Linked DNA regions of Homo sapiens: region 1 is linked to region 2. A link means that fine-mapping ties the variant in region 2 to the expression of a gene that starts in the linked region. Tissue or cell type: cerebellar hemisphere. Region 2 holds a variant in brackets; the other region holds the start of a gene. All regions are shown on one strand. Distances are from middle to middle.

Region 1 (8,184 bases), 100 kb after region 2:
TGTGGAGACAAGGTCTCACTATATTGCCCAGGCTGGTCTCGAACTCCTGGGCTCAAGTGATCCTCCCACCTCAGCCTCCTAAAGTGCTGGGATTATAGACATGAGCTACCACACAGCCTACATGAATCTTACTGCAAGTAATTTTTTGTGGCTTGCTTTTTTTGTTTCTCAGTATTGTTTGTGAAATTTGTCCATATTGATTTTTTTTTTTAGCTGGAGTTTGGTCTGTGGCTTATTTTTTTACTTTATTGTTTATTTTCATAAGCAGAAGTTTAATTTTTTTAATGTCAAACCTTTGTGGTTTATGCTTTTTGTGTCTTGTTTTTTTTTTTACTTGAGATGATAATAATGATATTCTTTCATTTTCTTCTGACAATTTTAAGTTGTGTTTTTTCCACTTTAAGTCTTTAATCTGTTTTTTTTTTTTAATTTTTAATTTTTTTAGAGACAGGTCTTGCTCTGTTGCCCAGGCTGAATTCCTGGCCTCAAGTGAACCTCTTGCTTCAGCCTCCTGAACAGCTGGGATTACAGGTGCAAGCCACCATGTCCAGCTAATTTTTTTTCTTTATTTTTCCTTTATCTGGTATTGGTTTTTGTTTATGCTGTGAGGTAGAGATCAATTTTATTTTCATCCAAGTGAAAAGGTAGATCATGCCACTCCTTTGCTCAAAAATTTCCAAATCTTCCCATATTCCCCAAAATTAAAGTTCTTTCTTTTCTTTTTTTTTTTTCTTTGAGTCAGAGTTTTGCTTTTGTTGCCCAGGCTGGAGTGCAATGGCATGATCTTGGCTCACTACAACCTCTGCCTCCTGAGTTCAAGCGATTCTCCTGTCTCAGACTCCTGAGTAGCTGGGATTACAGGCATGCGCCACCATGTCCGGCTAATTTTGTATTTTTGGTAGAAACAGATTTTCTCCATGTTGGTCAGGCTGATCTTGAACTGCTGACCTCAGGTGATCGGCCCACCTCAGCCTCCTGAAGTGCTGGGATTACAGGCGTGAGCCACCACGCCCTGCCTAAAATTAAAGTTCTTAAAATAGAATGAAAGTCCATATATGATCTGGCCCTCTGAAATGTCTCTGACCTCATCTCTTTCCAGTGAACACTGGCCTCCTTGCTCTTCCTTGAACACTCCCGAAATGTTCAGGGCCCTTGACTTTCTGTTTGTCTGCTGGAAATTTTCAATGTCTATACTTCTGGCTTCCTCATTTCCCAAGTCTCTGCTCAAGGTCACCTTATCATGGAGGACTTCTCTAGCCACCCTAGCTAAAATCTCCCTCCAACACACACACACACACACACACACACACACACACACCCCAGCGTTTGGTATTTCTCTTCTTTCAAAGAACTTACCTGAAAAACTCTCTGGGTCTAGTATAGTTGTGTGTTGGGGTAGTGGTAGATGGGTATTTTTAAAAGTGTTGATTTAATTTTTTGAATGGCTTAAGGACTACATGGGACTTTCAATTTCTTCTTAAGTTAGTTTTAACCCTTTCTCTACAAAAAAATATATTTTTAAAATTAGCCAGAAATGGTGGCACACACCTGTAGTTCTAGCTACTTGGGAAACTGAAGTGGGAGGATCCCTTGAGACCAAGAATTTGAGGCTGCAGTGAGCTATGATTGTGCCACTGCACCCCAGCCTGGGCAACAGATACCCTATCTCTAAAAAACATTTTTTAAAAAATTTTACTTTCTGAATAGTTAATATATGCCCACAGTATAAACATTCAAGTTTCAAAAGTATACACAGTGAAAATTAGATCTCTCTCCATCTCTGCCTTCTAGCTACCTGGTTCCCCTCTCTTGGCATCAATTTCTTGTCTGTTTCCCTAGTTTCTTATTTATCCTCCCAGATATATGTCGTGCATGTAGAAGCACATAACATATATTGTTTTTACATAAATGGTGGAATGCCATATATATTATCCTGCACATTGCTTTTTTTCCACTGAACCATGTATGTTAGATTTGCTTCCAAAGCTATTCATAGAGGGCTGCCTCATTTCTATTCCAGTTACCTAATATTCTATTGGATGATGTACCATCATTTATTTACTTAGTCTCCTTCTGAAGGATAATTAGGCTATTCTGTCTTTACAGTGGCCTTCTAAGAAGCCAGTGTGTTTTGCCCATCTTCAATCGCTGCTTCACCCTGATGTCAGATATACCTTCTCCTTAAACTTCCATTCCCATGCTATCATTTCCCTGTTCAAGAATTTCCAACAGCTACCCAGTTCCCACAGAATAAGGCTGAACTTCTTACCCTTGAACGAAGATTCTGCATGGTCTCTGCCTTCTTTTCCATCATGTCTTCCTGTTCCTGAGGACACTCCCCAAAACTGATGACTTGAGGTTTTCCCAAATGTACCTCTGATTTTAGGGGCTCCAAAGTTTTCTTCAGCCTGCTCTACCGTCCCCTTTGAACCCTATGAGGGAAATCCTTCCCTCCCCCTGGACTGGTCACACTGGGCTCCAGGTCCTCTCTGGAACAGCTGCACTTTAAATATTTCAGCCCAGTCTCCCACTGTACACCCTACAGAGCCAGAACAGGTGTTTTGAATTTTGTTTGGGGTTACTGATATTTAAATTGTTCACCAATGGTCCTTCCTCTTCTAAACTCCAAATTCCTTGTGGGCAGGGACTGATGACTGGGAATGGGGAATACTAAAATGAAAAGATATCCTGACTTCCAAGTAGCTTAAAACATAAAGGTAAGCTGGGCACAGTGGCTCACGCCTGTAATCCCAGCACTTTGGGAGGCTAGGGCAGGTGGATCACGAGGTCGGGAGATCGAGACCATCCTGGCTAACATGGTGAAATCCCGTCTCTACTAAAAATACAAAAAAATTTAGCTGGGTGTGGTGGCAGGCGCCTGTAGTCCCAGCTACTTGGGAGGCTGAGGCAGGAGAATGGCGTGAACCCGGGAGGCGGAGCTTGCAGTGAGCCGAGATTGCGCCACTGCACTCCAGCCTGGGTGACAGAGCGAGACTCAGTCTCAAAAAAAAAAAAAAAAGAAAGAAACATAAAGGTGAGCCAGATATGCAAAATTAAAATACACAACACAGTAGGATCTTAGTTTAAGTGGAAGTATGCTCTATGCTCAGGGCAATCATGGTCGGGGGGAGTTTTTATTTTATTTCATTTTTTTACTTTAAATCTCTGGTCTCTAGTCCAGCGTCTGGTACATGGCAGCTGCCCAGTAAGTGCCTGTTGAATGGAGAATAACATAAAAAGAGGCATTTAAGGCAAGTGTCAACTTCTTGCAGTAACAGTCACCTTTTATATATAAAATAAGTCAACAGATAGTGTAGTGTGGATGTCGCTTATCTTTTGGGGAGAAAGAGGGCTGTGTGGGAGGGGATGGAATCAACTTTCAGCCAGGGAGGGAGGCGAAGACATTGCCTCCCGGGTCGGGGGTGGGTGGGGGGTCCAGGCGGCTGCGGGGCGCGGGAGAGGCGGGGAGAAGGGAAGGGGGAGGAGACTCTCGCCTCCTGCCCCGCCTCCCCCACCCCGCGGCGGCGGCGGCGCAGGGCGGCCGCGCGGGTGTTGGCACCAGAGGCAACAGCTGCAGCAGCCGCGCCGCCCCCTCGCCCGCGGCTCCCAGGGTGATCCCGAGCACAGCCGGTGGCTCGCGGCGCGGCAGCCCCAGAAGACGGGAAAGTTCGCGGCCGGAGCGCGGAGATGCCGGGCAGCGACACGGCGCTCACCGTGGACCGGACCTACTCGTACCCCGGCCGGCACCACCGCTGCAAGAGCCGGGTGAGCGCAGCGGGCTGGGGGGCGGCGGGTGCGCGCGGGCCCGGGGGCGAGGCGGGCTGGGGCGGCGGCTCAGTGCTAACCCACGCGCCCCCGGCGTTTCGCCGCCGCCCTCCGCTGCCGCCGGAGGTCCGTGCCTCCCCGATCCTCCGAGCTAAAAGGGTGGGCGTCGGGGGCGTCGGAGCCCAGGCTGCGGTTCTGGGATCCCAGGTCCGCCTGCCCCTCACGGCGCCCAGGTCCCCGCGCGCTATGCGGGACGCCCGGTTCCCCGACGGCCCGCGCTCTGCTGTCCTCCCCGCCAGGGAGCGCCCGCCGCTCCGCGAGGGAATCCCGCCACCCGGCCACCCGCGGCCCCGCGTCTCCAGGTCTCCGGGGTCTCGCCCTGGGTGTGACGGTGCCCTCCCCGCCGAACGTCCCGGCGGCCGCCCTGTCTCCCTGTCCTCGGGGCGTGTGGCCGGAACCCGAGCGCGGTGCGCAGCCGGAGCGCGGGGAGGCGGCGGACGGGCTCTGCCCAAGTGAAAAGTCAGAATCTTTGCGCTGCCTCTCCGGAGTTTCGAGCCGAGCCGAGCAGGCGCCCTCGCCATTGTTTGCAGTGTAATTTGCTGTTGCTGATTTTGGCTGTGGGCGAAAATAGCTCATTCTGAGCCTGCTGCAGAGACGAGCCCTGTAGGGCTTCAAAATAAAGACGGAGGCCGCAGCCCAAGCGCGGGTCTGTCCTGGGAGAGGAAGCCTTCGCCCTCCCCGGTGAATACCTTTGCCCTCCCGGGCTGTTGAATCGTCGAGGCTGGATGTGAGGCTCTGTAACCCGTTCTCCCCAGGGCTGATTGAAGTGCCATTTAACAAAGCACCTCCTCCACGCTGGCATCTGTTCTGGCAGGAGGCACCTGGAGTTGTTCTTTGCTCCGCCAACTACTTACTCGCTTGTCCGAGAACTGGGGATTTGGGTGTCAGCCTCTGTGTAAAGTTCACGGAGGGAGAGCCGGGCTCAGATTCTGGCCTGCCACTTCCAAGATCGAGAGACCAACTGGATGGAAATAGTAGCAATAGTGACGGGGTTGTGTCGCGGCCCTTTGTGCAGGATTTTGGTCTTCACTCATAATTTGAAGTAGTAATCGATTGCCCCAGAAGTGAAGCAATGAGTCTCTGGTTTATTTGCCCGCTTTCCCTTTTTCCTTTAGCATCTGTTAATCATTTTGGAAGGATGATTTGAGTTTTTACAGATTGAATATATTTGGTGGAATAATACCTCATGCACTCATCTCAATCTTACAATTCTCTTGTTTTTGCACTTTGTGTATAAGTTTCGTAACAGTTTGCTGTGAAAATAACCAGAAACTCCATTTGGAATAAACATTGAAGAAATGTGCTTACCCACAGGTAGACATTTCTTCTTGGATAGCTGTAATGCTAGTTAACAGAACTATGAAGAAAAGGAGATCATCTTCGAATGCATTTGTAATTGAGAGGATTCTGTAAAGTTAATATTGCAGACTTGAAATGTGAAAGCTTGTTTTTTCTTGTCACAACTGTGATCTTCTTTGTGTAAACAAGATTAGTAATCTTAGCGGGATGGATGGCTCATTGTCAACTCATTTAAGTGGTTTGGCAAAACTCATGCAACTTTACAAAACTCACTCTTCATAACCTGTAAAATGGTGGTGATAAAGTTTGTGCCTCAACTGCTTAGGTGGAATGTGGTAAAGCAATTGTGTAAGGTAACTGCAGAGTGTTTCTGCCGCATCTGCCACTGTTGCCTGTCTACGCCAGTCTTTTCTATTAAAAGGTCAAAACCTTATGTGATTTCTTGATTTTCTTTAAAATTCTGCTGACGGGCCGGGGGCGGTGGCTCATGCCTGTAATCCCACCACTTTGAGAGGCCGAGATAGGTGGATCACCAGGTCAGGAGTTCAAGACCAGCCTGGCCGAGATGGTGAAACCCTGTCTCTACTAAAAATACAAAAATTAGCCGGGCGTGGTGGTGGGCGCCTGTAATCCCAGCTACTCGGGAGGGTGAGGCGGAGAATCACTTGAACCCGGGAGGCGGAGGTTGCAGTGAACCGAGATCGCGTCAGCCTGGGCACAGAGCGAGACTCTGTCTTTAAATAAATAAATAAATAAATAAATAAATAAATAAAACAATTCTACTGACAATGTTATTGTACCTGCTGCCTTGTATTGTTAGCATGGAGATACCCGATTTTTAAATAAGCTGTGTATTAAAACTGAGTTAGACATTATATGTGCGGATTATCGTAAATTAGCACATTGGGCCAGTCAGATCTAGTGAAGAGAGGAAATCAGAGAAGGGCTAGAACTTCAGCAGACCGTAATCACAAATTCTACTACAGTGATGCTGGACTTCTTGAGGTCCCAGTTGAAACTTCTCAGCTATCTGCTTTTAGGTTTTTTATTGTTGAGACAGCGAGGAATAGGTAGAACTAGTGAAATTTTTGTAAACTCATAATAATAACTTTTCTCAAGCAGGGTTGATGTAATTTCAAGTCTGTCCTGAGGCTACAATAAGTCTGTTGTAATGAAGGGAAAGCAACAATTTTACTGTGCAGAAAGTATTCATCCATTTAAATGATCGTAGCTCCTGTATTGTGGAACTCACTTGGATGCAGCTGTAAAGATATGTTTTCCTGACACCCAGAACGTATGTGATGCGAGAGGAAGACATCGAGTGCTAATTTCTTGATGTCACCATCTCCTTGGGAGGAAACTAGTATAGGATTTAAAAAGAACCCTTTTATGAACTCATTTGGTGAATTAGCTCCCCTAAAAATGCCAATGAGAACTAGGGGGTCATGGGAAGAGTCGACTAATCTTTCAGGGATATGGAGTTTCTGCCTAGAAGTGGGCAAAGACTCCATGAGATGAAGTTCTTAGTTACTGAATGGTCATTTTTTAAATTCAAAATCAATACCTGTTGAGATAACAGGGAAACTACATGGTCTGTCTTGCTGGGCTTATTTCAGCCTTTGAGACTGGAATAATAATGAGGCAGTGTACTCTTTCAACATTGCAGAAATCTATTTTTACATCTAGGTGGACTGACCTAGATAACCCCTCCCCCCTTAGTGAAAATGTAAGTAATGAATTCTGTGATTGTTGCTAAGCTGACAAGTCAGGATCATTCACATTTTAAAACTTCATCTTTGTAAAACTCAGAAATGGTGCTTGTTAACTTGATGCACATATCTCTCTACTTTAGAAGAAAGAGCATCCATAATTAGACTCCTACTTTTTTTTCATGCCCTAGATAGTTAAAGCCTATCATCTTTTTAAGAATACAGGCCGTCTGCTTTCTATACAGTAACTGGCTTTTATTAATGATGTGTGAATTAGGTTTTCTTTTAGTTGGTTTTCATTTTAAGTGTTCTAAAATGCCCTCTCCAGCCACTTGAGTATAGTGGTGGACAGCTGGGGCTCTGGACCTACGTGGGTTGTATTCTGGCTCTTCGAGCTTCTTAACTGGGTGACCACTGGGGCAAGGTCCTAAATAGCCTTTCTGAGCCTCCAGTTTCCCATCTGTAAAAGAGGTAATACTCCACTCTTCTGGGAGTGATTGTGTGTCTTAAATAAGAAAGTATTTGTTTTTTAAAAAAAAAAAAAAAAGCCAGGCACGGTGGCTCACGCCTGTAATCCCAGGACTTTGGGAGGCCGAGGCAGGTGGATCACCTGAGGTCAGGAGTTCAAGACCAACCTGGCCAACATGTTGAAACCCTGTCTCTACTAAAAATACAAAAATTAACCAGGCATGGTGGCAGGTGCCTGTAATCCCAGCTACTCGGAAGGCTGAGGCAGGAGAATCTCTTGAACCCGGGAGGCGGAGATTGCAGAGAGCTGAGATCGTGCCATTGCACTCCAGCCTGGGGGACAAGAGTGAGACTTCCTCTCAAAAAAAAAAAAAAAAAAAAAAAAGGTGTGTGCTTTCAAATATTAGCTATTTAAAAAAATTTTTTTAAATTTATGTTCTCTCACTGGGTGAAAAAGCTGTATTTGTCTATATGTCAGGTTAATAATTTTTTTCTATTTTGTTGGTGCCACTACTAATCAGAACTGCTAGTCATCTTGAGTGCCTGCCCTCCCCCATCTCTCTAACCTATTAGCAATACCACCGCACCTTTCTCTGACATTTCTCTGGAATTGGTTTCTTCCATATCTCCCAATCATCCCCCACCTTAGTCACTTATGACCTTCACCAACTTCTGTTCCATCCTGCATGCAAGGACCATATTATTTTCCCTACAGAACCATTTGCATTAGGATAGTCCCCAGAATACAGATCTTGTACCAGTGCTGTTTGCTACCAGTGTAATCTTGGATCCTGTAATCACTCTAAGCCTTAGTTCCTACTTCTACATAATAGGGGTGTTTTGAGGAATAAATTCAGTAATGTCTATAAAATGTTTAACTCCA
Region 2 (8,184 bases):
GGTTTGTTGTTTATCTTCTCAGGCTTTTTCTGTTTATATGCAAACGTTTTTATGTGTAAAAAATATGTAAAATTATTTCTACAAAAACAAGGATACATTATTCTGTAACTTACCTTTTAAAACTTAATATGCTATATATAAATTTTATTTTTTTCATGACTCTATTGTTCTAGCATATGGCTACACCATAGCTTATTTAAACAATGTCCTATTGATGCACATTTAAGTTATTTCCAGTGTTTTATTATTACATTGACGTGATAAACATCTTTTTTACAGAGATCTTTTGATATGTTTTCTGGCATTCCTGTCAGCTGAAATACCAGAAGAGGAACATCTGGTTCAAGGAGTATGCACATTTTAAATACTAATAAATATTGCTGGATTGCCCTCTAGAGAAACTGTACTTACACACTCCTACCGGCAAATCATTCAGTCTCAAGGTCTCAGCTTGAGTGTCACCTTCTTAAGGAAACCTGCCTTGTCATCTTTACCCCCAGGCAGTATGGAATGCCCTTCCTTTCTTCTAAAGGAAGAATACTCCCCCCAAAACACTCTGATGTCCTTGAATTTTGGTACTCATCCCACTATTTGAATATTTGTTATATAATCTGTTTCCACCACTGGACTTTGAGTTCTTTGTTTCTCCTTTTACATTTTTTTGTTCCTAGTTTTAAAAGTAACACGTGTTCACTGTATATAATTCCAGCGTCGTGGAACTATCTTACATTAGGGAAGTGTCTATTTTGGATAGTCACCCTGTATCATCCTGTGCACCCCTCTCTCATTACCACTTCCAGCATGGACCATAAAAAACACATACATACTCGCCCACAGGCCTGGGTTCCTGGAGAGAAGGGCTCATGTCTTTTTGATTTTCTATTTTTATTTTATTTCTTAAGAGACAGGGTCTCACTGTAACCCAGGCTGGAGTGCAATGGTGCAGTCACGGTTCACTGCAGCCTCCAACTTTGGGGCTCCAGTGATCCTCCTGTCTCAGCCTCCTGTGCAGCCAGGACTACAGGTATGCACCACTATGCATTTAAAAATTAAGCTAAATTAAAAATAATTTTTTTGTAGAGATGGGATCTTGCTCTGTTGCCCAGGCTGGTCTCAAATTCCTGGGCGCAAGCCATCCTTCCACCTTGGCCTCCCAAAGTGGGATTACAGGTGTGAGCCACTGTGCTCGGCCTATGTCTTTTTATTTTTGTGTTCTAGCACTTAATATGGTAGCTGGTACATTGGACATGCTCAGTAAATGTCACCTCAATGAATGGGAAATAAGCCTCTCCTTAGAAAACATGGTAAGTTACATAAGCACCTGTAATAGGTACTCACATGATTTATGGATTATTTTTGCTTAGCTTTCTTTAAAAAGAGGTGGCTTTGCACAGTCTCCTACACTGCCCTCAACAGAAACTCTAAAGCTGATGAAATTCACCCTCTTCTAAATGATTTCGTTCCATAGCCATTAGGAACTATTTAGTTCCTCTAACAAAGCAAATGCAGGAGCCTGGAAAGCAGTTATTAGCTGAGGTAGATTGGTTTACCGATGTGATTTGTTGCTATGTGTGTTTATTATCCACTGTTTCTGTGCTCATGAAGTCAATATCCCCTGCATTTGCTGAGCCAGGCAATCTGGTGAAATAAGAAGTGAAGCCAGGCACTGTTCAACTCCCGAATCTAGCAACAGCCATAATAATAGCTACCATATATTGAGTGCCTACCATGTATTAGGTATGTTTTACATGCCATTTAATCCTCGTAAAAACCCTATGAAGAAAATATTGTTTTTCTCTAGGTTGCAGATGATATTCAGCCACAGTGAAGTAAACTTTCCAAGGTTACACAGCTATTAAGTGGTAGTGTCTGGCTTTGAATCCAGGTCTTTTTGGCTAAAAGCCATCTGTACTCCCTTTTATTTTATTTTTAAAATTTTGTATTTCCATAGGTTATTGGGGAACAGGTGGTTTTTTAGTGGTGATTAATGAGATGCTGGTGCACCCATCACCCAAGCAGTATATACTGCACCCCATTTGTAGTCTTTTATCCCTCACCCCCTTCCCACCCTTTCCTCCTGAGTCCACAAAGTCCATTTTGTCTTTATTATGCCTTTGCATCCTCATAGCTTAGCTCCCACTTATGAGTGAGAACATCCAATATTTGGTTTTCCATTCCTGAATTATTTCACTTAGAATCATAGTTTCCAGTCCCATCCAGGTTGCTGGAAATGCCATTAATTCATTCTTTTTTATGGCTGAGTAGTATTCCATTGTGTACTCCCTTTTAAATCTTCCTTTCTTATCCTTTAACCTGCCAAATGGGCCTTCTATTATGGAACAGGAAAAGTGGATCATTTGATGGGAAATCTGGAGTCCTTTCTCTTGTTCATCAAGAAAACACTATTCAGATCTCCAAGAAAACACATCATCTTCATTTAACTTTGTTTTATTCTCCCCCTCTAAAATCATAGATCTCTAGAAATGAAAGAGATCAAGTTTACCAGTTCATATTCTCCTGGAGGGGGAGCAGGAGAGCCAATGACAGTATTACCTATTAAATATTTTCATTTTCATCCCAGTAGAGAGTCTCCCAGATTTCACTGCATGAATGAAAAATCTGGAGTTGCTTTGGATTTATATGGGTGCAAAGCTAGAGTCTAATAGAACTAAACACAATATGTAAATTATAATTTAGAATTAGAAACAGAAGGGTAGTCTGGTTCATGGACCCCATGAGGACACCTATATCATCGATTGCCCCAAAGCCATCCTCCGACCTGGAGGCTAAAGAGATCTGGTAGGTTCCTTTTTTTATTACATTCATTCTGTTCCAGGTGGTCAAACATTTCTTTTGTTTTTACTGACCTGTAGAAAAGGAGATGTGTGTCCACAATTTTGCCTACCCCAAGTTTTGGAGGAAATTCTTTGCTTATTACACCTTATCTAACGCCTCCAGTGGGACTTGGGGTTAGCACTTTGCAATGAGACATGTTAATGTGTCTTCAGTAAGACATATTCATATTAGATGGGGATAAGTAAAGATTATGATAACTTCATGTCATTTCAGGTCAGATTTTGCTTCCAAATGATTTGCACACACTTAGGAAAAAAATTTCTGTTTTCAGAACGTTTTGGATTTCAGAATTGCAGATAAAGGATTGTGGACCCATAATTTTCTCCTGTTTTGCACTGGCGGTAGTTTAACTTGTGGACCATCAAAAAAATATGTTTGAGAGAGGACCCTTATCACCTCTTTTGTTTAAAAAGCAAAATAAACTTTGTTTCCACCAAAATGCCTGCCTCCCCGACATTTAGGGGCTGCTGTGGCACCATTCCTGTGTGTGTCCCCTTGGTAGCTTAGTTCCAAGCTTGACAGTTCTCAGGGGTGGGGAGTTCTCTCTGCTCTCCCTTACCCTCACCCCAACCAGTCTCTTCAGCTGCATCCCGTTTCTCCTCTTCTAAGGGATCTGGAGAGTTGCTGGCTTCCATCATCTTCCGTGTGAGGACCGTCACAGCTTGCACTGCTCAGCAGGCAGCTTTTCTGGACACCACACTCTCCCCAAGCCTTTGTTTCTTGATTTTGGGAGCATTCGCCATGGAAACCATTTTGGCTCATCTTATCCCATTCCCAGGTGGTCTCCAAGGCTTTGCCCACACAGTGCCACAATGAAAAATGCAGCCTGGCTCACCGGTTTGCTTTTCACGTTTTCATTGCTTATTTGGCTCATGGCACAATCCCACGGAATCCTCTGCAGAGGGTGGTGTTGCGCCATTCCCTCTGACCCAAGTGTTGGCTCTCACTCTGCTCAGTGTGAGACACACCTTTCACACCCACAGTGATGCCTCACTGCATCCAAAGCCATTCTGAGATTAGCACAGTCTCAGGCCAGATGGTTTGA[T/C]CAATTCCAATTCCTGCTCCCACGTTGGCTCCTTTAGGCCTCGTATGTTCCATTTAGCTGTTGTTTCTCCGGTATATGAAGTACATCAAGCAGTGAGTATCTTCAGCAACTGCCTATACCAGTAAGTATCTGGCTGTCGGTGGTGGTGGCTGTAGTTTGGCAGTACTACCAGCTTCTCCCAGCACCTGGCTTATCAGAATACAGGATTCATGCCATGTGGCTCTTACTTGGGCCAAGAGTCTTCAGTCAGCCCAGTGACTTAAGTTGCCAAGGAAACTGTGTCTAGTGAGACCTCAAGATTTACAACTCATTCCTAGGCTACAAGGTTTTCTCCAGAATTTTTGCTGACACAGTTTATTCCCATAACCTCCCAGCCCTGTGGGGTGTATAAATCTTTGAGCTTCTCTGGAGAATTCACTTTACTGCATGCAAGGCCTAGAATAGGGATCAAAAGAAGTTTGGCTTCAGGGGCCTCATGAACTTGGAAATTGTATGCACTATTTTGTGTGGATGTATGTATGGGCATTTTTTTTATGGGAAGAGGCTTGCACTGGGTGCTCAGCAGCATATTCTGAAACAGTGTAGACTTGGGAAATCTATTTAGTCTTCTGAGCCTCTGGAAAGTGAGGATAATACTAGATTCTGTCCCATTCATTTGTAATGAGGATAAAATGAGAAGTGCATATAAACTGTCTAGTACAGTGTCCATAAATATTCATAAATGTTAGCTATCATTTGACTGTGAGCCTCAAAGGGTTAAGATGATGTGACTGCCTTTCGTTCCTTAGGATTAGGTGGCAGATATAGAATTTGAAATCATTTTCTTTATGCTGCACAGAAAATCTTCACAGTACTGCCTGGTGTGATCTCCTTAGCATCCTTTTTGGTGGGTGGGAAAGAGTGCATGACTATCCTCTTTTACAGGTGAGGAAACTGAGGCTCACCATGATCACCTAGCTAATAAGGCTCCAAAAAAATAGGTCCTGCTCACAATCTGGTGGGACAAACAGATCCTAAGACAAGCAATTACAGACCACGATGAGCACCATCACCCTTGAAGTACAGGATGTTAAAGCATCTACGAAGGTCAGGGCAGGCTTCCTGGGGTGACAATCCGATCCCTGAAATGTGGGTAGGAATAGGTTAGGCAAACGAATGGACTTTGAGAGAGTGTTGCATGTAGAAGGAACAGCATGTGCTGATGCCTCGAGGGAGGGAGCGCTCATGGTTCGGGTGCCTCGCAGCAAGAGGGAGTGGGAGATGAGGCCAGGGGAAAGTTTCTTTTAACCCCTAAAAAAAAGGAGATGAATGTGCAAAGAAAAAGGAAAGGAAGGCCGGGTGCGGTGGCTCATGCCTGTAATCCCAGCACTTTGGGAGGCTGAGGTGGATGGATCACATGAGGTCAGGAGTTCGAGACCAGCCTGGTCAACATGGTGAAACTCCGTCTCTACTAAAAATACAAAAATTAGCCAGGCTTGGTGGCAGGTACCTGTAATCCCAGCTACTAGGGAGGCTGAGGCAGGAGAATCGCTTGAACCTGGGAGGTAGAGGTTGTGGTGAGCCAAGATCGTACCACTGCACTCCAGCCTGGGCGACAGAGCAAGACTGTCTTAAAAAAAAAAAAAAAAAAGGAAAGGAAAGGAATAGTGCAGACAAGTAACTTAAGCTAGGCTGTGTTGGCACACCTGCAAACATGCAGCCATTTAAAATAATTCTGAGGAAGACTAACAACACAGGTCGTGTTTGCTGTGTTAAGTGAGGAAGAGTGTTTATAAAACTGCCCGTGTATCAAGATTGCAGCTGCATAAAAACTAATCCTCAAATGACAGAGACTTACACGGAAGAAGGAAAGTAACTCTTCTGTTAAGGTGATAGATTTTAAAATGTATTTTAATGTCTTATTTTGTAAGTTTTGTTTTAGTTGCTCATTGTTTACAGTGCGTTGCCTGGGAGATCAGGATCCAGAGTTCTGCTGATCCCCCAGCCTCTTCAATTCCGATTCACTCATTTGATTCATTAATTCCTTAGTTCATTTCAGGCTTGCCCTGTTCCAGGCACCATGCTTGAGCCAGCAGGGATCAGTTGTGTCTGCGTGTCCATTACTGACTGGGTCATCTTTCAGAGAGCCCAGCCGCTCTGACTCTCCCAAGACCCATCCCTCCATGGCTACATAAAAACACTTGCTCCCTCACTTGTTCTCAGAGACACCTCTAATTAATACTTTCATTTTGTTCACGTGAGAAGAAGGAAAAGGCAGTACCAGTTGGTGAACATGGCACCTTCCGGGATCTAGAAGGCAGTAAGCAGGGAAATTAAGTAACTGGAGAAGAGACAACCAAAACAACTGGGTGTCAGGCAGACATGTCCGTTTGACCTGGTTTATTACTGCTTAGCGTCTAGTGCTTTTGCAGAATTGCCTGGCATCTTCTAAGCTTTCCACAGGGATCAAAGGCTTTGTTTGCTCCGAATGTTTTCTTAAGCAGTTAGTTGGAAATCTACCTTTTTGTGCATGTCAACGAGAAGAAAGCAGCAAGCTGCCATTAGATTGAGCATCAGCAAGAAACCTTGACCCCTTGGTGCTCTTAGCATGTGTACTGTGCAATTCCAGGGCTCTGAAGGCAGTCTCAGCACACAGGAACAGTTAAACATTTTGTTAATGTGTCTGATTTTTGCTTTAAAATGCTCCAGTACACATACACAGTGTAAGAGAAGAGATGAAATAAGAAGGGTGATGGATACATTAGTTCATTGTACCATTCCCTTTACCTTGTTTGTTTGAAAATCTTCATAAGAAAAAATTAAAATATTTGAAATACTGATAAGAGCAAAATACCAGAAATAAGTGTGAAGAGCCCCATGTGACAGTAACCCCTCTCATCCCTTTGGAGATGGCCAGCCCTAGATGCTGGGCCCTCCCTCCCCTGGACCCTCCACTTCAGTGGAGTGGGAGTTGATGAGTCAGGGAAGGAGAAGTGGCAGCTGCCTAGGGACACTGGACTCTCTACTGCTCTCTGAAGTGTGGTTTCAGGAGCTGCAGACTTCCCAAGGCCCCGGAGCAGTTAGTTCATCCTTTGCTTTCCATGATCATCTCTGAGTGTGTGTCTGGTTAGAGGTTAGGAAATTGTCAGTCTGTGCATTCAGTACGGACCGAGCACTGTTCTAGATGCTGAGGATACAGAGTGAGGTTTCTGCTCAGGTTGAGGGTACATTCTGCTGGGGGAACTTGACAATCAACATGGATGCTTGTCATTGAGCAAGACCATTTCAGTGCTATGAAGAAAATCACATAGGATGATACGAAGGTCAGGGAAGACGTGAGAGCCACTTTAGGTCAGGTGATTGGAGGAAACTCCTCTGAAGAGGCACTATTTGGGGTGACTCACAAAGGATGAGAAAGACGTAGCTGCTGTGCCTAAGGGGACAACTTTCCAAACAGAACCGCAGAGCCAGGAAGCAACCTTGGCAAGGCGGAAAACCAGAATGCGAGTGCCTGAAAGTTGAGTGTGTGGACCCTGATTCTGGTGGCTTTCTTCCTTTTCTTTACTCCCTTCTCTCCTTATTCATTTTAAAATTTGTTTCTTCCCAGAAATCTCCCATCTCTCTGGGTTCCATTTTCCAGTCATTTGTAGCTCCCCTCCCAGCCCCCGCAGATGTTCTATATTGACTTTTGGTTGAGGGGCCCTATACGGCTGAAATGAGAGCAGGCTCACAATAATGGGAAGATTTGTACAAATTAGAGTTGTAACACACTGCCAAGCAGTGCTTTCTTTGCTTTGGAAATGAATCTGAAGTCAGCCGAAAGCCCGTTAAAACCCACATCCAAATCTTCTACTATGTTTCACAAGTTGCATCAGAGATGTTTAGTTATAAAAGGAAACTTAGAAATTATGTAGTAATGAGGTATTGGTTTTGGCTCATCTGATTGTTAATTTTTTTAAAATGGCATTCCTTGTACGAGGGAGAGAACGAGAAGAGTACAAGCTGGTATTGGCCTTAAAAAATATACGTGCCCCTTCATCAAGAAATTCCATCTCTAGGAGTTTATTCTAAGAAAACAATCATGAAAATTGCAAAGATTTGTCTACAAAAATCTTCGACCAGTGTACATAATAGTTAAATGGAAAGTGATCTAAAAGTTGAACAATAGAAAACTGGTTAAATGAATTGTGGTACATCGCTTTGATAGAGTACTCTGTAGCCATTTAAAATGATATTGTAAAGTTAATGGCCTGGAAAGCTGTTTACGTTACATTTTATGTCAGGAATACATTTGGCTACAGCTA

What was found. PIP is the estimated chance that this variant, and not a neighbour inherited with it, causes the effect.
Region 1: TMCC3 starts here. The variant in region 2 is fine-mapped to the expression of TMCC3 in cerebellar hemisphere (GTEx, PIP above 0.99). The same link has a PIP of 0.9 or more in cerebellum.

What each region holds. Positions count from the first base shown.
Region 1 is chr12:94,645,934-94,654,117 of GRCh38, reverse strand. TMCC3 (transmembrane and coiled-coil domain family 3) reads left to right here and starts at 3,561. Exons shown (of 4, transcript NM_020698.4): 1 at 3,561-3,765. The coding sequence starts at 3,688. LOC105369914 (a long non-coding RNA gene) reads right to left here and starts at 7,680. Exons shown (of 2, transcript XR_945225.4): 1 at 4,515-7,680; 2 at 3,116-3,213. RefSeq lists silencers at 3,438-3,607, 3,628-4,097, 4,188-4,317 and an enhancer at 3,394-4,109.
Region 2 is chr12:94,749,191-94,757,374 of GRCh38, reverse strand. No RefSeq gene overlaps it. Among named protein-coding and RNA genes, the nearest start is that of MIR492, 81 kb to the left of the region's middle. The variant T/C (reference allele first, on the strand shown) is at 3,902.